Linked DNA regions of Homo sapiens: regions 1, 3, 4 and 5 are each linked to region 2. The links come from fine-mapping of genetic effects on gene expression. A gene starts in region 2. Each other region holds a variant in brackets. All regions are shown on one strand. Distances are from middle to middle. Region 1 overlaps CCDC7 (coiled-coil domain containing 7). Region 2 holds the start of CCDC7 (coiled-coil domain containing 7). Region 3 overlaps CCDC7 (coiled-coil domain containing 7). Region 4 overlaps CCDC7 (coiled-coil domain containing 7). Region 5 overlaps IATPR (ITGB1 adjacent tumor promoting lncRNA).

The links. PIP is the estimated chance that this variant, and not a neighbour inherited with it, causes the effect.
Region 1: its variant is fine-mapped to the expression of CCDC7 in subcutaneous fat (FUSION, PIP 0.90).
Region 3: its variant is fine-mapped to the expression of CCDC7 in whole blood (INTERVAL, PIP above 0.99). The same link has a PIP of 0.9 or more in lymphoblastoid cells.
Region 4: its variant is fine-mapped to the expression of CCDC7 in whole blood (TOPMed, PIP above 0.99).
Region 5: its variant is fine-mapped to the expression of CCDC7 in esophagus mucosa (GTEx, PIP 0.99).

The regions. Positions count from the first base shown.
Region 1 is chr10:32,798,144-32,803,252 of GRCh38, reverse strand. All of the region lies in intron 30 of CCDC7 (coiled-coil domain containing 7), which reads right to left. Among named protein-coding and RNA genes, the nearest start is that of SNORA86, 100 kb to the left of the region's middle. The variant T/A (reference allele first, on the strand shown) is at 2,981.
Region 2 is chr10:32,443,124-32,448,232 of GRCh38, reverse strand. It overlaps CCDC7 (coiled-coil domain containing 7), which reads right to left and starts at 2,093. Exons shown (of 44, transcript NM_001395015.1): 1 at 1,836-2,093. It overlaps LOC101929431 (a long non-coding RNA gene), which reads left to right and starts at 2,177. Exons shown (of 3, transcript NR_120660.1): 1 at 2,177-2,620. RefSeq lists a silencer at 1,923-2,152 and an enhancer at 2,223-2,542.
Region 3 is chr10:32,663,308-32,668,416 of GRCh38, reverse strand. CCDC7 (coiled-coil domain containing 7) reads right to left here. Exons shown (of 44, transcript NM_001395015.1): 22 at 4,256-4,363. Among named protein-coding and RNA genes, the nearest start is that of CCDC7, 220 kb to the right of the region's middle. The variant AG/G (reference allele first, on the strand shown) is at 2,296.
Region 4 is chr10:32,819,147-32,824,255 of GRCh38, reverse strand. The region is part of intron 32 of CCDC7 (coiled-coil domain containing 7); the gene reads right to left. Among named protein-coding and RNA genes, the nearest start is that of SNORA86, 80 kb to the left of the region's middle. The variant C/T (reference allele first, on the strand shown) is at 2,825.
Region 5 is chr10:33,104,548-33,109,656 of GRCh38, reverse strand. All of the region lies in intron 1 of IATPR (ITGB1 adjacent tumor promoting lncRNA), which reads left to right. Among named protein-coding and RNA genes, the nearest start is that of IATPR, 9.7 kb to the left of the region's middle. The variant C/T (reference allele first, on the strand shown) is at 2,547.

The DNA.
Region 1 (5,109 bases), 360 kb before region 2:
TAACAGACATTTACAGAACATTTCCTCCAACAACTACTGAATACACATTCTCATCACTTCGCCTTTTGGCTAAGATCAAGTGCAGAATACACATGCTTCTCATTGGCACATGGAAGATCACATATCAGGCCACAAACAAGTCTAAACAAATATTAAAAAGTCAAAATCATATCAGTTATCTTCTCAAATTATGATGAAATAAAACAAGGTATCAATGTGATTGGATTGAAGGATGCAAAGTATTGTTCCTGGGTGTGTCTGTGAGGGTGTTGCCAAAGGAAATTAACATTTGAGTCAGTGGACTAGGAGAGGCAGATCCACTCTCAATCTGGGTGGGCACCACCTAATCAGCTGCCAGAATGGCCAGAATAAAAGCAGGCAGAAGAATGTGAAAGACTAAACTGGCTTAGTCTCCTAGCCTACATCTTTCACCTGTGCTGGATGCTTCCTGCCCTTCAACACCAGACTCGAAGTTCTTCAGCTTTTGGACTCTTGGACCTACACCAGTAGTTTTCCAGGGGCTCTCAGGCCTTCTGCTGCACTGTCAGCTTCCCTACTTTTGAGGTTTTGGAAATAGGACTGGATTCCTTGCTCCTCAGCTTGCAGATGGCCTACTGAGGAACCTCACCTTTTGATTGTGTGAGTCAATACTCCTTAATAAACTCCCTTTTGTCTATATATCTATCCTCTTAGTCCAGCCCTCAAGAGAACCCTAATACAGATTTTGGTACTGGGAGTGGTTCTAGAGGAACAGAATTTTAAGGATGGAGTATTTAGTTGCCTTTGGGGTTTCTGGAGTTGCCTGCTTAATATGATTAGACCCAAAAATGCTAAGGATTCTACTTCTAATAGTATGGAGAACACTGATAGTTCTTGGTGTGAACTGTTTAGAGAGTTATGCAAAATAAATGCATTTGATACTCCTGATTCACTGCTCAAGAGATGCAAGGAGTTTAGTAACTCTATACATAATACCTTTGACCATATGTGAAGAACTACGGAATGTAAAGAAGTTGGTTGGTTGCTCCTAAGTTCACTAGACAATGTGATAAAAGAAAATGAAGTCAGGGATTCTATCTCCCGGCTCTAGAAGCACATACTAAGCCTCAAATCTTCTAAGGTTGCCCTAAGTGAGAGTCTTATCTTCTGTAGAAAAAAAGCTGAAATTGTGGAAAATCAGACACAAGCTCTTATCCTGTGAGTGGCTGACCTGCAACAAAAGATGCATGCACAACCTCACCAGGTATCCACTATTAAAGTGAGGACATTGATTGGAAAAGAATGGGACCATGCAACTTAAAATGGGGACATGTGGGAGGACCCTGATGAGGCTGGAGGCACTGAGCTCCTAAATTCTGATGAGACTTTTTGGGCGGAGGAAACAGCCTCCCCACTCCAAGTGGTGGCAACATCCCCTTCCCAATCTATGACCCACGCTGCCATCAGCCCTTCCACATTTGCTGAGGAAATTAACCCTGCACTGCCTGAGGTAACAGTGATGGCCTCCCTTGGGGCAGGTGCCAGGCAAGACAATGCTGATTTTCCTCAGGACCCACTCCCAACACCCCTGTTTGCTTCTAGACCTATAATTAGGCTGAAGTCCTGGCAGACCCCTGGAGTTGAGGTTCAAAGTGTAACCCACATGGAGGTGCACTACACTCCAAAAGAACTGCTTGAGTTTTCTAATTTATTTAAGCAGAAATCTGGAGCACATGCATGAGAATGAATATTAAGGGTGTAGGATAATGGTGGAAGGAACACAAAGTTGGAACAGGCTTAATTTATTGATTTAGGCCCACTAAGCAGGGATTCTGCATTTAATGTTGCAGACTGGGGAGTTAAAAAAGATTCTAATAGTTTATTGGCTTTGTTAGCTGAAATATGGATTAAAAGATGGCCCACTGTGAGCGAGCTGGAAATGCCTGATCTCTCTTGGTTTAATGTAGAGAAAAAGATCCAAAGTCTTAGGAGATCAGGATGCTAGAGTGGATTAGTCACTTTAGACCTACTCATCCCAGCTGGGAGGGTCCAGAAGACATAATCTTGACCAATACTTCGAGAAATAGATTTGTGTGGGCAGCACCTGCATCCTTGAAGAGCTCTGTGATTGCTCTTCTCTGTATGCCGATCTTACAGTGGGAACCACAGTCACTTCAGCTATAAAATTTAAATGCAGTGGGAATAATTGGATCCCAAGATGGCAGAGGCCAAGCGGTGGCACTCAACCATCAAAGGCAAGGTGGGCATAGTTACTGCAATGGACAGCAGAGGCAAAGTAGCAATCAGAATAGTCTGACTCATGTAGAGCTCTGGCATTGGCTAATTAATCACGGTGTTTCTAGAAGTGAAATTGCTAGGAAGCCCACTGCATTTTTACTTAATTTATATAAGCAGAAAATTCCATGTCAAGTGGACAAAAGACTGATTTGAATTATAAAGACAGAATCATGGACCCTCAACCAATTTCCAGACTTGAACCAGTTTACAGTTTGTAAACTTGAACCACTTTACTTGAAGGAAAGGCTGGATCCCCTTGAGGAAGGATCCCACTACACTACCAACAGTTTATGCTGTTAATCTTTCTTCCATCTTTCCCCAAAGAGACCTCCAGCCTTTTACTAGGGTAACTGTGCATAGGGGAAAGGGAAATAATCAGACCTTTCAGGGACTACTGGTCACTGGCTCTGAGCTGACATTGATTCCGGGGGACTCAAAAATGTTATTGTGATCCTCCAGTTAAGGTAGGGGCTTATGGAGGTCAGGTAATTAATGGAGTTTTAGCTCAGATCCAACATAGAGTGGCTCCAGTGGGTCCTTGGACTCACCCTGTGGTCATTTCCCCAGTGCCAGAATGCATAATTGGGACAGACATACTTAGTAGCTGGCAGAACCTCCACATTGGCTCCCTGACTGGTAAAGTGAGGGCTGTTATGGTGGGAAAGGCCAAATGGAAGCCATTAGAACTGCCTCTACCTAGAAA[T/A]ATCATACATCAAAATAATATCGCATCCTTACAAAAATTGCAGAGATTACTGCCACCATCAAGGTCTTGAAAGATGCAGGGGTGGTGATTCCCACCACATCCCTGTTCAACTCTCCCATTTGGCCTGTGTAGAAGACAGGTGGATCTTGGAGAATGATAGTGGATTATCGTAAGCTTAACAAAGGGTTTACTCCAACTGCAGCTGCTGTATCAGATGTAGTTTCATTGCTTGAGCAAATTAACACATCTCCTGATACCTGGTATGTGGCCACTGACTTGGCAAATGCCTTTTGCTCCATTCCTGTCCATAAGGCCCACCAGAAGCAATTTGCCTTCAGTGGGCAAGGCCAGCAACATACCTTTACTGTACTACCTCAGGGATATATCAACTCTCCAGCTTTGTGTCATAATCTTGTTTGGAGAGATCTTGTTTGCTTTTCCCTTCCACAAGATATCACACTGGTCCATTATATTGATGACATTATGCTGATTGGATCCAGAGAGTGAGAAGTAGCAAACACACTGGACTTATTGGTGAGACATTTGCATGCCAGAGGATGGGAAATAAATCCAACTAAAATTCAGGGACCTTTTACCTCAGTAAAATTTCTAGGGATCCAGTGGTGTGGGGCCTGTCAAGATATTCCTTAGAATATCACCTTAGAAAGGTGAAGGATAAGTTGCTGCATTTGGCCCCTCCTACAACCAAGAAGGAGTCACAACACCTAGTGGGCCTATTTGGATTTTGGAGGCAACACATTCCTCATTTTGGTGTGTTATTTTGGCCCATTTATCCAGGGACCCAAAAGGCTGCCAATTTTTAGTGGGGTCCAGAACAGGAGAAGGCTCTGCAATAAGTCCAGGGTGCTATGCAAGCTGCTCTGCCATTTGGGTCATATGACCCAGCATACCCAATGGTGCGTGAAGTGTCAGTGGCAGATAGGGATGCTGTTTGGAGACATTGGCAGGCCCCCATAGGTGAATCACAGTGGAGCCCTCTCGGATTTTGGAGCAAGGCCCTGCCGTCTTCTGCAGATAATCATTCTCCTTTTGAGAGTCAGCTCTTGGCCTGTTACTGGGCTTTGGTAGAAACTAAACATTTGACTATGGGTCATCAAGTCACAATGCAACCTGAACTGCTTATCATGAACTGGGTGCTTTCTGACCCATCTAGCCATAAAGTAGGTGATACGCAGCAGCATTCCATCATCAAATGGAAGTGGTATATACATGATCGGGCTCGAGCAGCTCCTAAAGGCACAAGTAAGTTACATGAGGAAGTGGCTCAAATGCCCATGGTCCCCACTCCTGCCACCCTGCCTTCTCTCCCCTAGCCTGCACCAGTGGCCCCATGGGGAGTTCCCTATGATCAGTGGACAGAGGAAGAGAATAGTAGGGTCTGGTTCACAGATGATTCTGCATGATACACAGGCACCACCCAACAGTGGACAGCTACAGCACTACAGCCCCTTTCTAGGACATCCCTGAAGGACAGCAGTGAAGAGAAATTTTCCCAGTGGGCAGAACTTTGAGCAGTGCACCTGGTTGTGCACTCTGCATGGAAGGAGAAATGGCCAGATGTGCAATTATATGCTGATTCATGGGCTGTAGCCAATAGTTTGCCTGGATGGTCAGGGTCTTGGAAGAAGCATGAGTGAAAAATTGGTGACAAAGACATTTGGGGAAGAGGTATGTGGATGGACCTCTCTGAATGGTCAAAAACTGTGAAGATATTTGTATCCCAAGTGAGTGCTCACCAACGGGTGACCTCAGCAGAGGAGGACTTTAATAATCAAGTGGAGAGGATGACCCGTTCTGTGGACACCACTCAGCCTCTTTCCTCAGCCACGCCTGTCATTGCCCAATGGGCCCATGAACAAAGTGGCCATGGTGGCAGGGATGGAGGTTACGCATGGGCTCAGCAATGTGGACTTCCACTCACCAAGGCTGATCTGGCTACGGCCACTGCTGTGTGTCCAATTTGCCAGCAGCAAAGACCAACACTGAGCCCTCTATATGGCACCATTCCTCGGGGTGATCAGCCAGCTACTTGGTGGCAGGTTGATTATATTGGACCTCTGTTATCATGGAAAGGGCAGAGGTTTGTCCTCACCAGAATAGACACGTAC
Region 2 (5,109 bases):
AAAAATTCTAAACTAGGTTGTGAACAATAGAACGAAAATATCTTAATAGCACTGAAAATGTTTATTTCATCCAAGAATTATACAACTGCTTTTTTGTTTCGATGAAACACTATAGTTAACACTATAGTTAACTGAATGCATAGTTGCCAAGCATAATTTTTAAATCATAATCAAATATGACTTTGCAAAAATAACTTGTCACTAAAAATCCATTTGAAGGAAGAACACAATGCTCTCTTGGAAATTACTGATGATAATAGTAAATAAACACATTATAGAACTTGAACCAAAGCCCCTGCAAAATATTCCCTTTTACATTTTTCGTTTTTTTGAGACAGAGTTTCGCTCTTGTCGCCCAGGCTGGAGTACAATGGCACAATCTTGCTCACTGCAAACTTTGCCTCCCAGGTTCAAGCGATTCTCCTGCCTCAGCCTCCCAAGTAGCTGGGATTACAGGTGCCCACTGCCACGTCCGGCTAATTTTTGTATTTTTAATAGTGACAGGGTTTCACCACGTTGGCCAAGCTGGTCTCGAACTTCTGACCTCAGGTGATCCTCCCACCTCAGCCTCCCAAAGTGCTGGGATTACACGCCTGAGCCACTGTGCGCCCTGCTCCCTTTTACATTTTTCTCATGCCGATTGTGACACGATGCTTTCAGTAAAAATTAATGATACAAGCAAAATGATGCAGAAACCAAGATTAAATTTACAAAATTGAAAAGCCTCAAAAGAATTCTGAATAAATTACATTGCCAAAGAAACTCCATCAAAACCTTCAGGTCCAAGCAAACATCAAAAATTCCATCAAAACCATCAGGACCAGGAAACAGGACGTAAGAAGAGTGGCCAATGAGCCAATAAGTAAAACCAAAAGGTTATATATACATAGAAAGCAAGGAAAAGAAAATATCACCAAGGACCGAGTGATGAACTACGTCAAATGCTGAGTCAAGTAAAATGAAGACTAAGCTGACACTGGATTTGGCAACATGGAGGTAGGTCATTTGTAACCTGAAGAACGGCAACAATTTCAGTAGAATGATCGAGGTAAATATCTGACTTACCGTTCAAAAGAGAGGAAGTAGGAACAATGAATTGAATATAAGCACTGTAGAGAAATTTTACTATAAAAGGGAGTAAAGAAATACAGTATTACTAGAAGAAAACATGGTCAAGAGGAAAGTTCGATGGAAAAAAGAACAAGTGTATATGCTGTTATGGATTGCATTGTGTCCTCTCTCCCCAAAAAAGTGTGAGGGAGGGAGGGAGGGAGGGAGGGAGGGAGGAAGGGAAGAGGGGAAGGAAGGAAGGGAGGGAGGGAGGGAGGCAGGCAGGCAGGCAGGCAGGCAACGCTCACTTGGTGCAAAAAAAAAGAACCTGACAAATGCTCCGATGAAGTTCACATAAATACAAAAATAGTCACACGCAATGAATACTCGTATTAGCAAGCAAATATTTAAGGACTTTACATATTTAATTCATTTATCCCTCCTAACAATGCTAGGAAGTGGATGTCAGCATTACTTCGCCCAAGTGCATCCGTCCCTTTCCGCCACCACGACAAATGTTTTCTGGTTTCATCCTTCAAGGATTAACTTACATTCATTTCAAATCCTTTAATGATAAAGTGTACAAAATAGAGGAGAGCGGCAGGGGTTGGCAGGGGACGTAGGGAAAGGATGATTTGCCTTCGATCCTACATCCTGCATAAAAAGCAGCACAACCGCCACGGAGGCAGCCAGGCAGCGGGAAAACTAAGTGCAAAGCCAGGACTCTCCCGAAACCCTCAGGTCCTGCTAAGGGAGCCGCTCCCGAGGCTCCCCGCCCTGTGTACCTGCTGAGACTGTGGGAAGTCGGGTGACTGGGCGGTTTGGCCTTGCTGGCTCTAAGGTGAAAAACTATTTGCCTGAGGAAGATGACAATTCCGAGCCTGCCAGACTTCCTTCGAGACGGAAGCCTGAAAACTCCTCAGACTCCAGCACCTCCCTTTTACAAACTGACGTTTGTGCTGAAAGAAAAGGCCCGGCCTCTGCGCCCCCGGGCGGCAGCAAAGACCGCCGGGCACCCGCCGCCGGCGCCGGATGGGGCCGTTGAAGCCACGTCCCAGGCGCCCGACGCCACGACGCCTTGGCGCCGCCGGCGTCGCTGACGCTGCGAGCGTGAGCTGCGCGCCGAGAGCGGAAGAGGAGACGCAGTTTGGCGGCTGTGGGGATTTGCCGGAAGGTTAATAATGTCCATGGGCACATCGGCCTCCTCCTTTCTTATTCTCTCCCAAGTGTAATTCCAGGACGCCCCCTGAGCGCAGATTCATCCAGGCATTTGGCCTAGAGGCCCGCGGAGGAGAAATAAAGTACAGGCCTGGTAGGACCTTTGAGAACCTGGGCTTCAGCTACAAAACCAGAGCCCCAGTCCTTCATCTGCTGTCTCCTCAAGCTCTTTTCAGTGTATTGTGGAGTTCATTACCACTCTAAGCTCGCACGGAAGTGTACACCAGCTTCGTGATCTTAAAAGCAAAACAAAATCAAATGGACTAGGAATTAACTTGAAGCAGAGTTGTGACACTTAAGTGGTTTCTTGCCATCAGTTTCCACGCACTGCTTTAAGATGCAATTTTACAAGGTAGAGTTTTTTAGATAATTTGACCTCAAGAAATATATTAATTTTGTCTTTAAGTTGAACGAAGTAAAATGTTTTTAATATTTTAAAATATTAATTGATACAATTTAACTGTTAATAATGCCTGTGTGTAAATGAAAGGAATAGGAAAGATGGAACTAAAACTAAAAACCAGGAGGTTTAAAGGAGACCTTAGATTTGACTTAGTAGATTTCAACTATTTTCTAAAACTCTGAAAATTCATTATATCTAATTATTTCTAATTTTCCAGTAAAATCTGAATGCCTCACAAGAGATTCCTGAAAATTTATCAGCTCCCAAGAGCTGGTGTAGGCTAGCTCCATCACACCACTAGGAGTTACCATTGGGGTTGCCTGGAAAGGGAAAACAACACATCTTCTGGTGTACCAGAAATGTTCTGTCTTCTGCTCTTTCTGGGTGTGTTCAAAAATTCATGAAGGCAGGCTGGGCGTGGTGGCTCGCACCTGTAATCCCAGCACTTTGGGAGCCTGAGGCAGTGCATCACTCGAGGTCAGGAGTTCGAGACTAGCCTGGCCAACATGGTGAAACCCCATCTCTACTAAAAATACAAAAATTAGCCGGGCGTGATGGCGGGTGCCTGTAATCCCAGCTACTTAGGAGGCTGAGGCAGGAGAATCACTTGAACCCAGGAGGTGGAGGTTGCAGTGAGCCGAGATTGTGCCATTGCGCTCCAGCCTGGGCAACAGAGCGAGACTCCATCTAAAAAAGAAAAAAAAAAAAAAACATGAAGGCATATGCTTATTTATGCACTTTTCAGTATGTGTGTTTTATGTCAGTAACAAAGAAAATGTACATATAAATGATCAGATTTATTAAGCTTTCCACCAACAATTTTTTATTTTTTAAAGTTGGCAATAAAATTAAGAAAGTAGTTTAGAAAGAATTGAATTGCTAAATTCCAAATCTCCCAAAACCGTTGTAAATGAAAGGGATAGGAAAGATAGAACTAAAAGTCAGGAGAGATTAAAGAAGACCTTAGATTTGACAAAGCCAATTTCAGTTATTTTCTAGAACCCTGAAAATAGATTACATCTAGTCATTTCTAATTTTGTTGGTAAAATCTTAACGGTCAAGTTGTCAAGTTAGCATACATTAGCAAAACTCTCAGCATGAGTCTAGCCAAAAGTTCACCATTCATATCTGTGGCCTTAATAGCACAGCTAAGAACCACAGAAAAGTTATCAGTGCTGACAATGTAAAGCAAAGAAGTTTAAAAAGTTAATAAATTTAAGCATGTAATATCAAATTTTGCAGTGGTTTGAGTCTGTGACATGAATCGATTATTCTTTGAAAACAAACAATACTTATGAATAGAGAGGAACTTTTTCATCTGATGAAGGACATCTGTGAACTATCTCCAGCTAACATCATTTTCAATAGTGAAAAATTGATTTTTCCTTAAGATTGGAAGGAGGCAAGGATATTTGCTCTCACTATGTCTATTCAGTATTATACTGGAGGTCTTAACAAGTGCAATAAGGCAAGAAAAAGAAATAAAGGCATAATGATTTCAATGAAAGAAATAAAGCTGTATTCCCAGACAACATACAATTTCCAGACATCTACAATGAAAACTATATAACATTACTGAGAGAAATTAAAGAAGATCCAAATTAATGGAGATTATGTACCATATTAATGGATTAGAAGACCCAATATTGCTAAAATGTCAACTTTTTAAGTCTATGTCTATCAATATTTATCTACACATTAAATGCGTTTATGATCAAAATCCAAGAAGATTATTTTCTAGAAATTGGGAAAATAATTTTGCAATTTATATGGAAATGAAAAAGGCTAGAGCCAAAACAATCTTGAAAAAAATAAGCAAATATTTAAATGACATATACTACAGGTTTTCAAGAGTTATAAAGTTATAGTAAAATAGTATATTACACGAAGTTAGACAAAAATGGAACAAATAGAGGGTTAAGAAATATATCCACATATATAAAGTCAATTGATTTTAAACAGTGCCAGTGCACTTCAATGGGGAAAGAAAAATCTTTCCAACAATGAAAATGAAAGCTGATATCATTGAGAGAAAAAAAATTATCCATGACCCCTGCCTCGTGCCATACCTGAAAGTTAATTTAAATTAAATCATAGACTTTGTGCCATGGACACATACCATACATATTATCCTTCAAGGGATAATGTGAAGGGTTCTGCTTCCAGCCAAGATGGAGTAACAGCAACTGGGTTTATGTGAAGGGTTCTGCTTCCAGCCAAGATGGAGTAACAGCAACTGGGTTTATCCTCCTGTCTGGAATAAGTAAAGAATCAGACAAAATATATGAAACAATGAATTTTTATACCTCGGTTATCAGATAATGATAATGACCCCTGCATAACAGGAAACAAATTTAAGATGATCCCTATTATTTCCTAAGCTTACTCCCTGAAGACAGGTGGTTCCAAGTCATGATACAAAGAACAGAAAACCCAGG
Region 3 (5,109 bases), 220 kb before region 2:
TCCTATCCAACATAGTGTTGGAAGTTCTGGCCAGGGCAATCAGGCAGGAGAAAGAAATAAAGGGTATTCAATTAGGAAAAGAGGAAGTCAAATTGTTCCTGTTTGCAGATGACATGATTGTATATCTAGAAAACCCCATCATCTCTGCCCAAAATCTCCTTAAGCTGATAGGCAACTTCAGCAAAGTCTCAGGATACAAAATCAATGTGCAAAAATCACAAGCATTCTTATACACCAATAACAGACAAACAGAGAGCCAAATTATGAGTGAACTCCCATTCACAATTGCTTCAAAGAGAATAAAACACCTGGGAATCCAACTTACAAGGGACGTGAAGGACCTCTTCAAGGAGAACTACAAACCACTGCTCAATGAAATAAAAGAGGATACAAACAAATGGAAGAACATCCCATACTCATGGGCAGGAAGAATCAATATCGTGAAAATGGCCATACTGCCCAAGGTAATTTATAGATTCAATGCCATCCCCATCAAGCTACCAGTGACTTTCTTCACAGGATTGGAAAAAACTACTTTAAAGTTCATATGGAACCAAAAAAGAGCCTGCATTGCCAAGTCAATCCTAAGCCAAAAGAACAAAGCTGGAGGCATCACGCTACCTGACTTCAAACTATACTACAAGGCTGCAGTAACCAAAAGAGCATGGTGCTGGTACCAAAACAGAGATATGGACCAATGGGACAGAACAGAGCCCTCAGAAATAATACCACACATCTACAACCATCTGATCTTTGACAAACCTGAGAAAAACAAGAAATGGGGAAAGGATTCCCTATTTAATAAATGGTGCTGGGAAAACTGGCTAGCCATATGTAGAAAGCTGAAACTGGATCCCTTCCTTACACCTTATACAAAAATTAATTCACGTGGATTAAAGACTTAAATGTTAGACCTGAAACCATAAAAACCCTAGAAGAAAATCTAGGCGATACCATTCAGGACATAGGCATGGGTAAAGACTTCATGTCTAAAACACCAAAAGCAATGGCAACAAAAGCCAAAATTGACAAATGGGATCTAATTAAACTGAAGAGTTTCTGCACAGCAAAAGAAACTACCATCAGAGTGAACAGGCAGCCTACAGAATGGGAGATAATTTTTGCAATCTACTCATCTGACAAAGGGCTAATATCCAAAATCTACAAAGAACTTAAACAAATTTACAAGAAAAAATCAAACAAACCTATCAAAAAGTGGGCAAAGGATATGAACAGACACTTCTCAAAAGAAGACATTTATGCAGCCACATGACAAAATGCTCATCATCACTGGCCATCAGAGAAATGCAAATCAAAACCACAATGAGATACCATCTCACACCAGTTAGAATGGTGATCATTAAAAAGTCAGGAAACAACAGGTGCTGGAGAGGATGTGGAGAAATAGGAACGCTTTTACACTGTTGGTGGGACTGTAAACTAGTTCAACCATTGTGGAAGGCAGTGTGGCAATTCTTCAAGGATCTAGAACTAGAAATACCATTTGACCCAGCCATCCCATTACTGGGTATATACCCAAAGGATTATAAATCATGCTGCTATAAAGACACATGCACACGTATGTTTATTGTGGCACTATTCACAATAGCAAAGACTTGGAACCAACCCAAATGTCCAACAATGATAGACTGAATTAAGAAAATGTGGCACATATACACCATGGAATAATACGCAACCATAAAAAAGGATGAGTTCATGTCCTTTGTAGGACATGGATGAAGCTGGAAACCATCATTCTCAGCAAACTATCGCAAGGACAAAAAACCAAACACTACATGTTCTCACTCATAGGTAGGAATTGAACAATGAGAACACTTGGACACAGGAAGGGGAACATCACACACTGGGGCCTATCATGGGGTGGGGGGAGGGGGGACCGATAGCATTAGAAGTTATACCTAATGTAAATGACAAGTTAATGGGTGCAGCACACCAACACGGCACATGTATATATATGTAACAAACCTGCACGTTGTGTACATGTACCCTAGAACGTAAAGTATAAAAAAAACAAAAGAAATACTAAGTCCAACCTTGCAGGATTATTGTGTATGTTAGAAAAATATTATGTTCTTCCTACTGCCGTACCTGGTATTTATTAGTAATTCAGTAAATGATAGCTATTTATATTATTATCTTTGTAATCTACCTTCTCTTCATCATCTTTAGGTCTCAGTGTAAATCAAAGGGAATAACATTGCTTATTCCAAAGGACTACCACAAGGACTAAATAACACCGGTGAAACTTCTTTGTCAATGAAAAAAAAAAAAAAA[AG/G]AAAAAGAATACTCTAAAGACTCCACCAAAAAACTATTAGACCAAATGATTAAATTCATAAAATTTTCAGGGTAGAAAGTCAACACACAAACATTAGTAGTGTTCCTATACTCTAACAATGAACTGTCTGAAAAAGAAGTCAAAAAGTAATCTCATTTACAATATCTACAAAAAATTAAGTTCCTAGGAATAAATTTAAACAAGGAGGAAAAAAAGTTCTACAATGAAAACTATAAAACATTAGTAAAAGAAGTTTAAGAAAGCACAAATAAATAAAAAGATATCCCATGTTCCTGGATTGGAAGAATTAATATTGTTAAAATGCCCATCAGTTATGAATTTAATCCCTATCAAAATCCCAGCAACATTTTTTGACAGAAATAGAAAAAATCCAAAAATTCATATGTAACCATAAAAGACGCTGAATAGCCAAAGCAATCTTGAGCAAGAAAAACAAAGCTGGAGGCACTGTACATCCTAATTTTAAAACATATTATTTAGCTACAGCAAACAAGACAGCATGGTACTGGTACAAAAACAGACATGTAGATCACTGGAATAAAATATACAATGGTGTTGAAAAACTAGATATCCACATGCAGAAGAATAAAATTATACCTTCATCTCACACTATATACAAAAATCAACTCAAATTGGATTAAGGACACATAAATTTAGGATCTGAAACTAGAATTGCTAGAAGAAAATATGGGAAACACTCAATTATGTTGATCTGGGCAAAGATTTTTTTAATATGACCCCAAAAGCAAGGTAATAAAAGCAAAAATAAGTAAATGGTATTAAACCAAACTAAAAAGCTCTGCACAGCAAAGCAAACAATCAACAGTAGGAATAAATAGCCTATTGCATGAGAGAAAGTATTTCCAAATCATAAATCTGATAAGCAGTTAAGATCCAATTTATAGAAGCAGCTCAAACAACTCAATAGTTAGAAAACAATCAACGCAAATAAAAGATGAGTATGGGATCTGAATAGACATTTCTCTAATGAAGACATGCAAATAGCCAACAGGTATATGAACAAGTGTTCAACATCACTAATCATCAGGGACATGCAAATTAAAACCACAATGAAATATCACTTCCCACACACTAAAGTAACTATTATCAAAAAGATGGAAGAGAAGTGCTGGCAAAGATGTGAAGAGAAGGGAACACTTGTACACTGTTGGTGGGAATGTAAATTAGTAAAGCCATAATGGAAAACACTACAGGGATTCCTCAAAAAATTAAAAATAGAACTACAATATTATCCACAATTTCACCTCTGGATGTACCTCCAAAGGATATGAAATCAGTATATAAAAGAGATATTTGTACTCCCATGTTCACTGTAACATTACTCACAATAACCAAGATACGGAATCAAACTTAGTGTCCAGCCACAGATCAATAGATAACGAAAATCACCCTTAAAAAAAGGAAGTAAATTTTGTCTTTTGTGATAATATGGATGAATGTGGAGAACATAATGTTAAATAAAGTAAGCCAGTCACTAAAAACAAATACTGCATTATCTTACCTATATGAGGAGTTTTAAAAAGTCAAGTTCATAGGAACAGAGAGTAAAATGTTGGTTATAAGAGGCTGATGGTGGGAGGACTGAAGCAATGTTGGTCAAAGGACACACATTTCAGCTGGAAATGAGAAACGTTTAAGAGATCTACTGCACTTCATGAGTACTGTTAATAATAACATATTGCAAAATTGCTAAGAGAAATTTTAAGTCTTCTCAATATAAAAAAATAACAAGGTAATATACATGTTAAATAGCTTGATTTTATTTTCCACAATTTATATTTAAATTCCACAATTTATTATTCCACAATTTATATATTAAAACACTATGTAGTACATGATGAATGTATATAATTTTTACTTGCCAATTAAAAATAAATCTTAAATTATTTTAAGGTTATCTACAATTATTACACTTACTACTGAGTTGATTATCTTGGAAAGATTTTTGTTTCTTTACTTCTACTTCCGTTTTTGACTTTGTGTCTTGTTCAAGCATAAGATTTTCTTCTGGTACATCATTATGAGCTACACAAATTAATAAATTTAGTGCACTAAACATAAACTATAGTGAAATTTCTAGATTTCAGATTTATAACAAGTATACAGCCATATTCTGTCTCATTTTTATACATGTAAAATATAAGTAAATTACTATAATTCTAGATCTGACATGAAAATAGTGACAAGAACTTTAAAGGATCTGAGGTGAAGTAGTCTCATTATTTTGATATTTCTTGGCATCAAATATTTATATTAGCCTCTACTTGTTCTTAATTATTTATAATTTAGATTAATATATATTCATAGGCAAAGCAATGAAAATTCATATGTGCAAGTTTATTCATTACAGCATACTTTTAATTACAAAATACTCAAAATCACTTAAATGTACAAGCATATGAAATTGGTTAATAAAAAGGTATATATTATAATTTGTGGTATTATCAACTACAATATTTAATATGATACAAAGAGTTGTACAGGAAGCTCTAAAAGTAATAAAAAGATTGTTACAACCTGATTTAGAGGGATTTATAGAAGGTAATGTTAAGTGAGAAAAAATTGAAATAGAAGAAAGATATCAAGTATGCTATCCATTAGGAAATAAATGTAAAGAGATACTTACTTTTAGAAATTGAAACACAGGAAAGATAAACCAGAAAACAAAGTAGTTGGTGACCAAAATTTGCATAGACCCTACATGCAAAATTGCATCCAATGACCATTGTTAAATCTAAGCATGTTCCTAGCACTGAGTGTCTACAATGCAT
Region 4 (5,109 bases), 380 kb before region 2:
AGACTTATGCTACCTTATTTCTTAACTATTTTTTCCATATAATGCAATCTCATATGCAAATTTAAATCACACTAGATAGTTTGTGGTAATAACATAACTTTCAAGTATATATTAAGAACATATATATGTTGTAGGGGTATATCTGGTGAGGTGGAACATCAATTTTTTTTCATAGTTGACCTATCTGCACACAATGGTCATCACAACTCACAAAATATAATAAAACAGAAGTTCCTTGACTCATCCAGAAATATTTTAATAGTCTATTTTAGGTGGTGTAACTATAATTCAAATAGGCATCAGTGATAAAAAAGAATAATAAATAACGCATGTAATGTGAAAAAAGTCTCTTCTCTCTGGTTCTTTTAGCAGGCGGACTTTACAGCTGGGAAGAAGAAAACGGGAATATTTGTAGTGGTACTAGCCTTAGGATTGTATTCCTTTTCATTTGAGTTTTATGTGATTTATACATTTTGTTGGATTTAGAAACTAGTATCTAGGTATAATGATGGAAAAACTAAAAAATCTACTAAAGAGAATTTCATATTGAAAAACAGATAATTAGAACTGGTAAACCTGGTTTATTAAACCTGAAGTTTTTTGTGTCAAAGTTGGTTTTAGCAGAGCATGTAATGGTAGTTGGACACCTGTAATGATCCTGAACGACAGAGTGGAAGTCTTGCTTTGGAAAATTGGCTGAGCCCATTATTAATGTTAAAATTTGCACTATTATCATGGCAGCCCAAATATACCACCAATATAATTCAAATAGAGGCAGAAACCAGATTACACATCATTGTAAAAATGCATTATATTGGCCAGGTGCAGTGGCTCATGCCTGTAATCCCAGCACTTTGGGAGGCCGAGGTGGGCAGATCTCGAGGTCCCAAGTTCGAGACCAGCCTGGCCAACATAGTGAAACCTTGTCTCTACTAAAAACACAAAAATTAGCAGGGCGTGGTGGCGTGCGCCTTAGTCCCAGCTACTTAGGAGGCTGAGGCAGGATAATTGCTTGAACCTGGGAGGCGGAGGTTGTGGTGAGCCAAGATTGCATCACTGTACTCCAGCCTGGGCAACAGAGCAAGACACCATCTCAAAAAAAAAAAAGCATCATATTGGACAAAACGAGTTTTCAATAATTCAATAACAACATTTTGTAAAAGTAATAGCTATATGCAACAGAAAACTGAGGAACATTAACAGATGTATTTCAGCTCTTTTGTCTTTCTCTTACAGATATAAGTAAGAAAGGCTGATTCATTTGAACTAAGAAATCAGAGGATTTTTAGATAAGCAGGGAGTCAATGAGTAGAGCATTTTAGAGTTAAACACTACGAATACAAAGTTATGTGCTGGAGAAATTTATCAACTAGTAAAAGTCACAATTTTCCTCCCTTACATTATTATCCTGTTGCTTTAAATTTTACAAAATCTTATCCTGCTTAGAGTTCCTGAGCTTTTAAAAATGTGTATATTTTTAAACCATACTATTTTTCCATTTAAAGTGTCCAATTCAATGCTTATTACAGAAATGTGTATTACCTCAGTCAACTTTATAATCTTTTTCACATTTACACTAATTACATTCTACTGAGATACAGAAACATTACTCCTTTATATATACCTTTATTCTCTTTCCCCAGTTTTTGTGCTACTGTTATACATATTATACCTGTAAATATTAAGGACAATGTAATAATTATTGTTATAATTATTTCTTTGTATAACTTTATGCCTTTTAAATAAACTGAGAAAAGAAAGAAGATCAAGTACATGTTTATAGGATTTGTTACATGAACACACTTATTTACATTTTTTGGTTATTTTTATTCTTGCTCTGTATTTATCATCCAGTGTTATTTTCTTACAGTGTTACATCACTTCTCCCTCCAATCACCTTTGTGATGCTATCATGAATATATTACATGTTGATATGTTATATGCCCAATGATACAATTATATAAATTTTTTATACAGTTGTCTTTTAGATAAATTAAGAAAAGAAAGAAGGTGGAATATATATTTGTACATACTCTCTTTTGCAATTATAACATTTAACTCATACCTTTTTTAGGGGGCTTCAAATTACTGTCAGAGGTCAGCTTTAGCCTGAAGAAATTTCTTTAGAATTTCTTGGAAAACAGTTCTGCTAGAAATGAAATCTCTCAATTTTTATTTAGTAATTTCATATTTCACCTTTTCTGAAAAGCAGTTTTGCTAGCAATAAAATTATTGGTTGGTAGATTTTTTTTTTTCAGCACTTTTATTTATTGTTTTGTTTGTTTTTCTTTTTTTGTTATACTTTAAGTTTTAGGGTACATGTGCACAACGTGCAGGTTTGTTACATATGTATACATGTGCCATGTTGGTGTGCTGCACCCATTAACTCATCATTTAACATTAGGTATATCTCCTAATGCTATCCCTCCCCCTACCCCCACCCCACAACAGGCCCCAGTGTGTGATGTTCCCCTTCCTGTGTCCAAGTGTTCTCATTGTTCAATTCCCACCTATGAGAGAGAACATGTGGTGTTTGGTTTTTTGGCCTTGCGATAGTTTGCTGAGAATGATGATTTCCAGCTTCATCCATGTCCCTACAAAGGACATGAGCTCATCCTTTTTTATGGTTGCATAGTATTCCATGGTGTATATGTGTCACTTTTCTTAATCCAGTCTATCATTGTTGGACATTTGGGTTGGTTCCAAGTCTTTGCTATTGTGAATAGTGCCGCAATAAACATACGCGTGCATGTGTATTTATAGCAGCATGTTTTATAATCCTTTGGGTATATACCCAGTAATGGGATGGCTGGGTCAAATGGTA[C/T]TTCTAGTTCTAGATCCCTGAAGAATCGCCACACTGACTTCCACAATGGTTGAACTAGTTTACAGTCCCACCAACAGTGTAAAAGTGTTCCTATTTCTCCACATCCTCTCCAGCACCTGTTGTTTCCTGACTTTTTAATGATCGCCATTCTAACTGGTGTGAGATGGTATCTCATTGTGGTTTTGATTTGCATTTCTCTGGTGGCCAGTGATGGTGAGCATTTTTTCATGTGTCCGTTGGCTGCATAAATGTCTTCTTTTGAGAAGTGTCTGTTCATATCCTTCGCCCACTTTTTGATGGGGTTGTTTTTTCTTGTAAATTTGTTTGAGTTCATTGTAGATTCTGGATATTAGCCCTTTGTCAGATGGGTAGATTGTAAAAATTTTCTCCCATTCTGTAGGTTGCCTGTTCACTCTGATGGTAGTTTCCTTTGCTGTGCAGAAGCTCTTCAGTTTAATTAGATCCCATTTGTCAATTTAGGCTTTTGTTGCCATTGCTTTTGGTGTTTTAGACATGAAGTCCTTACCCATGCCTATGTCCTGAATGGTATTGCCTAGGTTTTCTTCTAGGGTTTTTATGGTTTTAGGTCTAACATTTAAGTCTTTAATCCATCTTGAATTAATTTTTGTATAAGGTGTAAGGAAGCTATCTAGTTTCAGCTTTCTACATATGGCTAGCCAGTTTTCTCAGCACCATTTATTAAATAGGGAATCCTTTCCCCATTTCTTGTTTTTGTCAAGTTTGTCAAAGATCAGATAGTTGTAGATATGCAGCATTATTTCTGAGGGCTATGTCCTGTTCCATTGGTCTATATCTCTGTTTTGGTACCAGTACCATGCTCTTTTGGTTACTGTAGCCTTGTAGTATAGTTGGAAGTCAGGTAGCGTGATGCCTCCAGCTTTGTTCTTTTGGCTTAGGATTGACTTGGCAATGTGGGCTCTTTTTTGGTTCCATATGAACTTTAAAGTAGTTTTTTCCAATTCTGTGAAGAAAGTCATTGGTAGCTTAATGGGGATGGCATTGAATCTGTAAATTACCTTGGGCAGTATGGCCATTTTCACAATTCTATTGATTCTTCCTACCCATGAGCATGGAATGTTCTTCCATTTGTTTGTATCCTCTTTTATTTCACTGAGCAGTAGTTTGTAGTGCTCCTTGAAGAGGTCCTTCCTGTCCCTTGTAAGTTGGATTCCTAGGTATTTTATTCTCTTTGAAGCAATTGTGAATGGGAGTTCACTCATGATTTGGCTTTCTGTCTGTTATTGGTGTATAAGAATGCTTGTGATTTTTGCACATTGATTTTGTATCTGGAGACTTTGCTGAAGTTGCCTCTCAGCTTAAGGAGATTTTGGACTGAGACAGTGGGGTTTTCTAGATATACAATCATGTCATCTCCAAACACGGACAATGTGACTTCCTCTTTTCCTAATTGAATACCCTTTATTTCCTTCTCCTGCCTGATTGCCCTGGTCAGAACTTCCAACACTATGTTGAATAGGAGTGGTGAGAGAGGACATCCCTGTCTTGTGCCAGTTTTCAAAGGGAATGCTTCCAGTTTTTGCCCATTCAGTATGATATTGGCTGTGGGTTTGTCATAGATAGCTCTTATTATTTTGAGATATGTCCCATCAATAACTAATTTATTGAGAGTTTTTAGCATGAAGGTTGTTGAATTTTGTCAAAGGCCTTTTCTGCATCTATTGAGATAATCATGTGGTTTTTGTCATTGGTTCTGTTTATATGCTGGATCACGTTTATTGATTTGCATATTTTGAACCAGCTTTGCATCCCAGGGATGAAGCCCATTTGATCATGGTGGATAAGCTTTTTGATGTGCTGCTGGATTCAGTTTGTCAGTATTTTATTGAGGATTTTTGCATCGATGTTCATGAGGGATATTGGTCTAAAATTCTCTTTTTTTTGTTGTGTCTCTGTCAGGCTTTGGTATCAGGATGATGCTGACCTCATAAAATGAGTTAGGGAGGATTCCCTCTTTTTCTATTGGTTGGAATAGTTTCAGAAGGAATCATAACAGCTCCACCTTTTACCTCTGGGAGAATTCAGCTATGAATCCATCTGGTCCTGGACTTTTTTTGGTTGGTAAGCTATTAATTATTGCCTCAATTTCAGAGCCTGTTATTGGTCTATTCAGAGATTTAACTTCTTCCTGGTTTGGTCTTGGGAGGGTGTTTGTGTCAAGGAATGTATCCATTTCTTCTAGATTTTCTAGTTTATTTGTGTAGAGGTGTTTATAGTATTCTCTGATGGTAGTTTCTATTTCTGTG
Region 5 (5,109 bases), 660 kb before region 2:
GCTCTTAGGGAGTGATTATTATCTGTTCTCTCGGTTGTTGTTTTGGGTACAATATGTAGTTTTCCCCTGGCAACTGGAAAATTATGTTGTGGCAGGAAGGACATCATTCTGCCTGTCTTGAAATGCTTTTCCCAAGAGATCTCAAGCTGAGGCTGTGTTGATAAAACACACATATAGAGAAAAGAAAATATCTTCCTTCCTTACTTCTTCTCTCTTTCTTATCGTTACACATCTTTGGAAGGGAATAAACTAAATATAGAAATAAAGGACAAGAAAATTGAATGAACACCTAACTTGAAATAGGCAGCTTCTGTCCATGCAGCGAGTGGGCTACATTATTGCAATTTCTATAAAACTGTTTCAGCACCAAATGGAAATTGGCCCATGTGCAGATTGGGGCAGCTTTCTGCAATTGAACCAATTGAACTTTTTCGAAATTGTACATATACGCACATCCGAAAGCTCTATACAACTGACTGTGTTGTAGCTAAGGACTGGTGAAATCCCCAAGGGAACCAGTGATACTCTTTCTAGGTCTTTCTAACTCTCAAAAGTTGTGTTTTAAACACTTTCTCACATCTTCCTACGAATGACTTCACTGTTTTATTTGTTGTGCTTACTGGTAACCAAAAATTATTTCAAGGTTCTATCCCAAACTCCCCTACATTTCTGGTGGCTTTGAAGTTACTCCAACGATTCTCTGTTCAGAAAGGTGGCTCCCACTTATCTGTGATTAGAGCATTTTGTGAACAAACGAGGCTGTAGAAATGAGTGCAGTGACGTAAATTCCTACACATGTTTTGGGCAAATAAGTTTATCTGACATAAATTGTTCTCCTTTCCTCCTCTGAGACCCTGGAACAAGCAGAGGAAAGGGTCTAGGCATTGAACTCCGGTGCACCTGTGATTAAACTTCAACTTGCCATGTCTGAGCTGTGTAACTTTAAGCAAATTGCTTACCCTTTCTGAGCGTTAGGTTCCTCATCTGTCAAATGAAGGTTCAAGTCTCATCCTTACAAGATTATTGTGAAGATTAACTGAGATGATACATATGATGCATGTGGTGTAGAACAGGTACCTGGTGCTATTGATGTTATCCTTTGGTCCATTAGTAAGAACATGTCCCAAACCCAAGCTTGTATCAAGTCCCTTAGAAGAAATTGAAAAGAAGACTCACAAGAATACAAAGGGAAGGATAGATACTGATATTAACAAAATAGGCTCGAAAAAATCCTAAAAAGTGAGTTCCCTATTTTTCTATCTACCTTCCTGGTCTCTTTCTTTACCTCCTGAATAGTTTGCATGGGTTCCCAGATGCGGACACTGGTTTAACCTCAGCAAGTTGTAACTCTCATTAAAGTGATTCAACTGTTCTGCTCTTTGCTTCCAGAATAATTAAGAATAGCAATGTCCAGATGCTCTCCTAACCAGTTCCCACATTAGCATCTTCCCCGTTCTCTGAAAAAAAAAAAAAAAAAAAAAAAAGGTGACCTTTTGACCTGATTCATTGGGAAGGCTGTTGTGAACTTCCTGGGTCAGAGTCGCCTGGGGTCAGTTACATTAATAGCCATCTAAACCTTCCTCTAAACCTTCCTGGGAATTGTAAAAACCTCCCAGATCCATGACAATAATGAGCTTTAAGCGTCCTTCTTCTCATTTCCAAAAGATTGAGGAATTTGGGCTTTACCCAGTAAGCCTGCATTGCACTTTGTCTTCTGACTCCATCAATTTATCATGCAGCATTGGATAATCCAAGAGTTTGTTAAATTCTCTATTTCTACAAAATATTTCCCATTGATTAAATTGTTCATTGAAACCAAGTCTGTCTTCAGAAAGAGTTCTACTGAGACTATATTGATCAGTCTCCAGAGTAATGAGTATATCTACTGAGCACATGCTTCATAGCTGACATGGTTCTAACAACATTCGCTAAATTCACCCTCCTAACGTTCTGTGAAGCAAGTGCTTGTGATACAGATAAGGGAAACTGAGGAATTGAAAGTCACAGAGTCACTGAATGGTGGGATGGGGAACAAACTCAGGCTGTCTGAACTCACTCTGATATCCTGCAAAGCAGTTACTAGCACAAACTCTTTCAATTGCTTATGATGGACAGTGCACTGATACTTTAGAGAAACTGAAATGAAACATGAAAAATACGGTTTTGGTTGATGTTTTTCCTAAGAAATGAGGATGAGGTTACTTCACTTTAATATTACACCTACGTTTAATTAGAATGAATGCAAAACTGATGAAAATTCTAGATTTTTCAGAAAGAAGCCTTTTTTTTCTGTTTGAGCCAAATCACTATAATGTCTATTTCCAAAAGCCAATAGTGAAAAAGTTCTCCCCAAAGTGAAGAGATCCTATAGAAATTTAAAACCATAATTAGGAACAAACCATAGCGGTCATTTCTATTTGCTGTGGCAGCTATTCAACTGCAGTATACGGATTTCATCTCCACCTAGAAAAAGTGAGTTCTAGTGTCTTACTGCTTTGAGGAAACCAGTGAGATGGGAGAGTTCCCTGACCCCCTTGTGGGACCTG[C/T]GACAGTGGGGTGGGGGGCGGCTCATTTTGCTCAGCAGAGCTTAAACCCCTTGTGGGAGGAGGAGCATGCAGGTGAGCGGGTGAAAGAGCCAGGGTGAGTGTCTTTAGGCGCCAGCAGGAACGAACCCTGTACTGGTCCACAGCAGCCTCTAGGGGTTGCCCCCGACCTCTGGAGCCCCAGAGGGCATGTGTTGCAAACAATTCTCTTTTAGTATTTGCCGTCCACGGATGGCTAAGTGTTAACCAGCTCAGTGGAGAATCACGGTGGCATACACCCTGCCCTCTTGGTACCCTGATTCTTGTCCAGCATCCAGGAAGAATCAGGTCACACGGACTTGAAGGATGGTGAATGCAGAGGTTTTACTGAGTGATGGAGGTGGCTCTTAGCGGAGGGGAGCTGGAAAGATGATGGTGCCGAAAGAAGGTGATCTTTTCCTGAAGCGCGGCTGGAGTCATGCCTTCTGAAGTTAAGCCACCTCTATCCATAGTCTCTAACACTCAGTTGCTCCTTCTCCTCTCCATGTTCAGCTGCTTGACTATCTGACAGCTGAGGTCTGGGATTTATATGGGCACAAGATGGTGGGGAAGGGACAAGGAGAACCAAAAAAGTAACATTTGGGCTGAAAAACAAGGATAACCGTTCTCATTTAGGGCCGCGGTTTCCAGGCCTGAGGGTGAGGACTTTGCCGGGGAACCACCCTCTTCTACCCAGTATTTCCCCACCTCCTGTCCATATCACTAGTATGGGAATTGTATGGAAAATTTTAAGCCTCTATTAAGTTGGCAAAGCGATTTAAAAATCAAGTCCTAAGCACTGAATTTTCCCAGGCTTTGTCTTGTTCTGGCTGACCGACTACCTGTGATCTAACAACTCTCCTTGTGAGCCACAGAAGCTCTCTATGACATTTTCAGTGAGGGTGCCTGAACCTCGGATGGATAACCAGTGCAACTAAAGATTTAAGGGCATTTCCTTTTTGTCTGTTTGTTTGTTCGTTTTGAGACAGAGTCTCACTTTGTTACCCAGGCTGGAGTGCAGTGGTGTGATCTTGGCTCACTGCAACCTCCGCCTCCCAGGTTCAAGGGATTCTCCTGCCTCACCCTCCCGAGTAGCTGGGATTACAGGCATGTGCCACTACACCTGGCTAATTTTTGTATTTTTAGGAGACACGGGATTTCACCATATTGGCCAGGCTGATCACGAAGTCCTGGCCTCCAGTGATCACCTGCCTCAGCCTTCCAAAGGGCTGAAATTATGGGTGCTTCAAGGACATTTCTGATGTGCTGAATACGCCTATGGAAGAAGGCATTCCTGGATCCTAATAAATAATGAATATTTATTTTAAATGAATTACTCATCTGCAGTGTTGAAGTTGAGCTTGAACAGTGCTAGCTATCAGTTTGTGTTCAGTAGGTTAAAAATCCCCCTCAAAATGTCCTGGTATCTTCAAGTGTGGCTATACTAGATCCATGCTTAAGGTCTGCCCTCTGTGTGCAGTCTAAGAGTGCATTGTTTTTTCTCCTCTGCTTTTAAAAGTCATGCACATGCTTTTAAAAGTACATGTAGAAAGTACGTCAAATAACAAATATTCCAGCCATAAATTCCATTTTCGATATTTAACCCATGCTGGTGAATATAAATTTAGTATTTTTCACATATATCTTGTACCATATAGTACCAGTTGTTTAACAACAATTTGATATTGTTAAATAACAGTGTATTGTGAATATTTTGTCATGTTATTAAATATTCTTCTATTTCACATTTTAATGACTGACCTATGTCCTATCACATGAACATGCCTCAATTTTATTTCACAAACCCACTATAAGTGGATGTACTTGTTATTTATTGTGTATAATAAATTAGCCCAAATTTAACAGCTTAAAGCAGCAAGCATTTATGATCTCACAGTTTCTGTGGGTCAGAAATCCAAGAACAGCTTAGCTGGGTCCTCCAGCTCAGGGTACCTCACAAGGCTGCAGTGCAGGTGCTGGCTGGGGCTGTTGTCATCTGAAGGCTCAAACCGGGAAGGATCTGCTTCTGGGTTCACTCACGTTCCATTGGCAAGCTTCAAGTCTTCACTGTCTTTTGGCTAGAGACATCAAGTCCTTGTCATGTGGGCCACCCCATAAGGCTGTTTACAACATAGGATGTGCCTTTCCTCAGATGAGGATTCCAAGAGACAGAATGTGAGAGAAGATACCCCTAATGGAAGGTGCAGTCTTTTCATATCTTCATCTTGAAAATGGCATACCATGATTTTTGCCATATTCTAGCTGGTAGACAATAGTAACTAAGGCTTGTCCACATTCAAGTGAAGAGGACCATATACCAAGGCATACATACTGGAGACAGGGATCACAGAGGACCAGCTTAAAAACAGACCACCATAGTGGGCATTGAGGTAACACATACATGCATGCACAGTTCGGACACTAATAAAAGGGAAATATTTTTCTGAGTAGCTTAGAGGAAGTGACCAGTTGAAGTTTTCAAGACCTGATGTTTCAGCCATTAAATGAAAACAGCAGAAAACTCATAATGGCATTTTTCAAGTCAGCT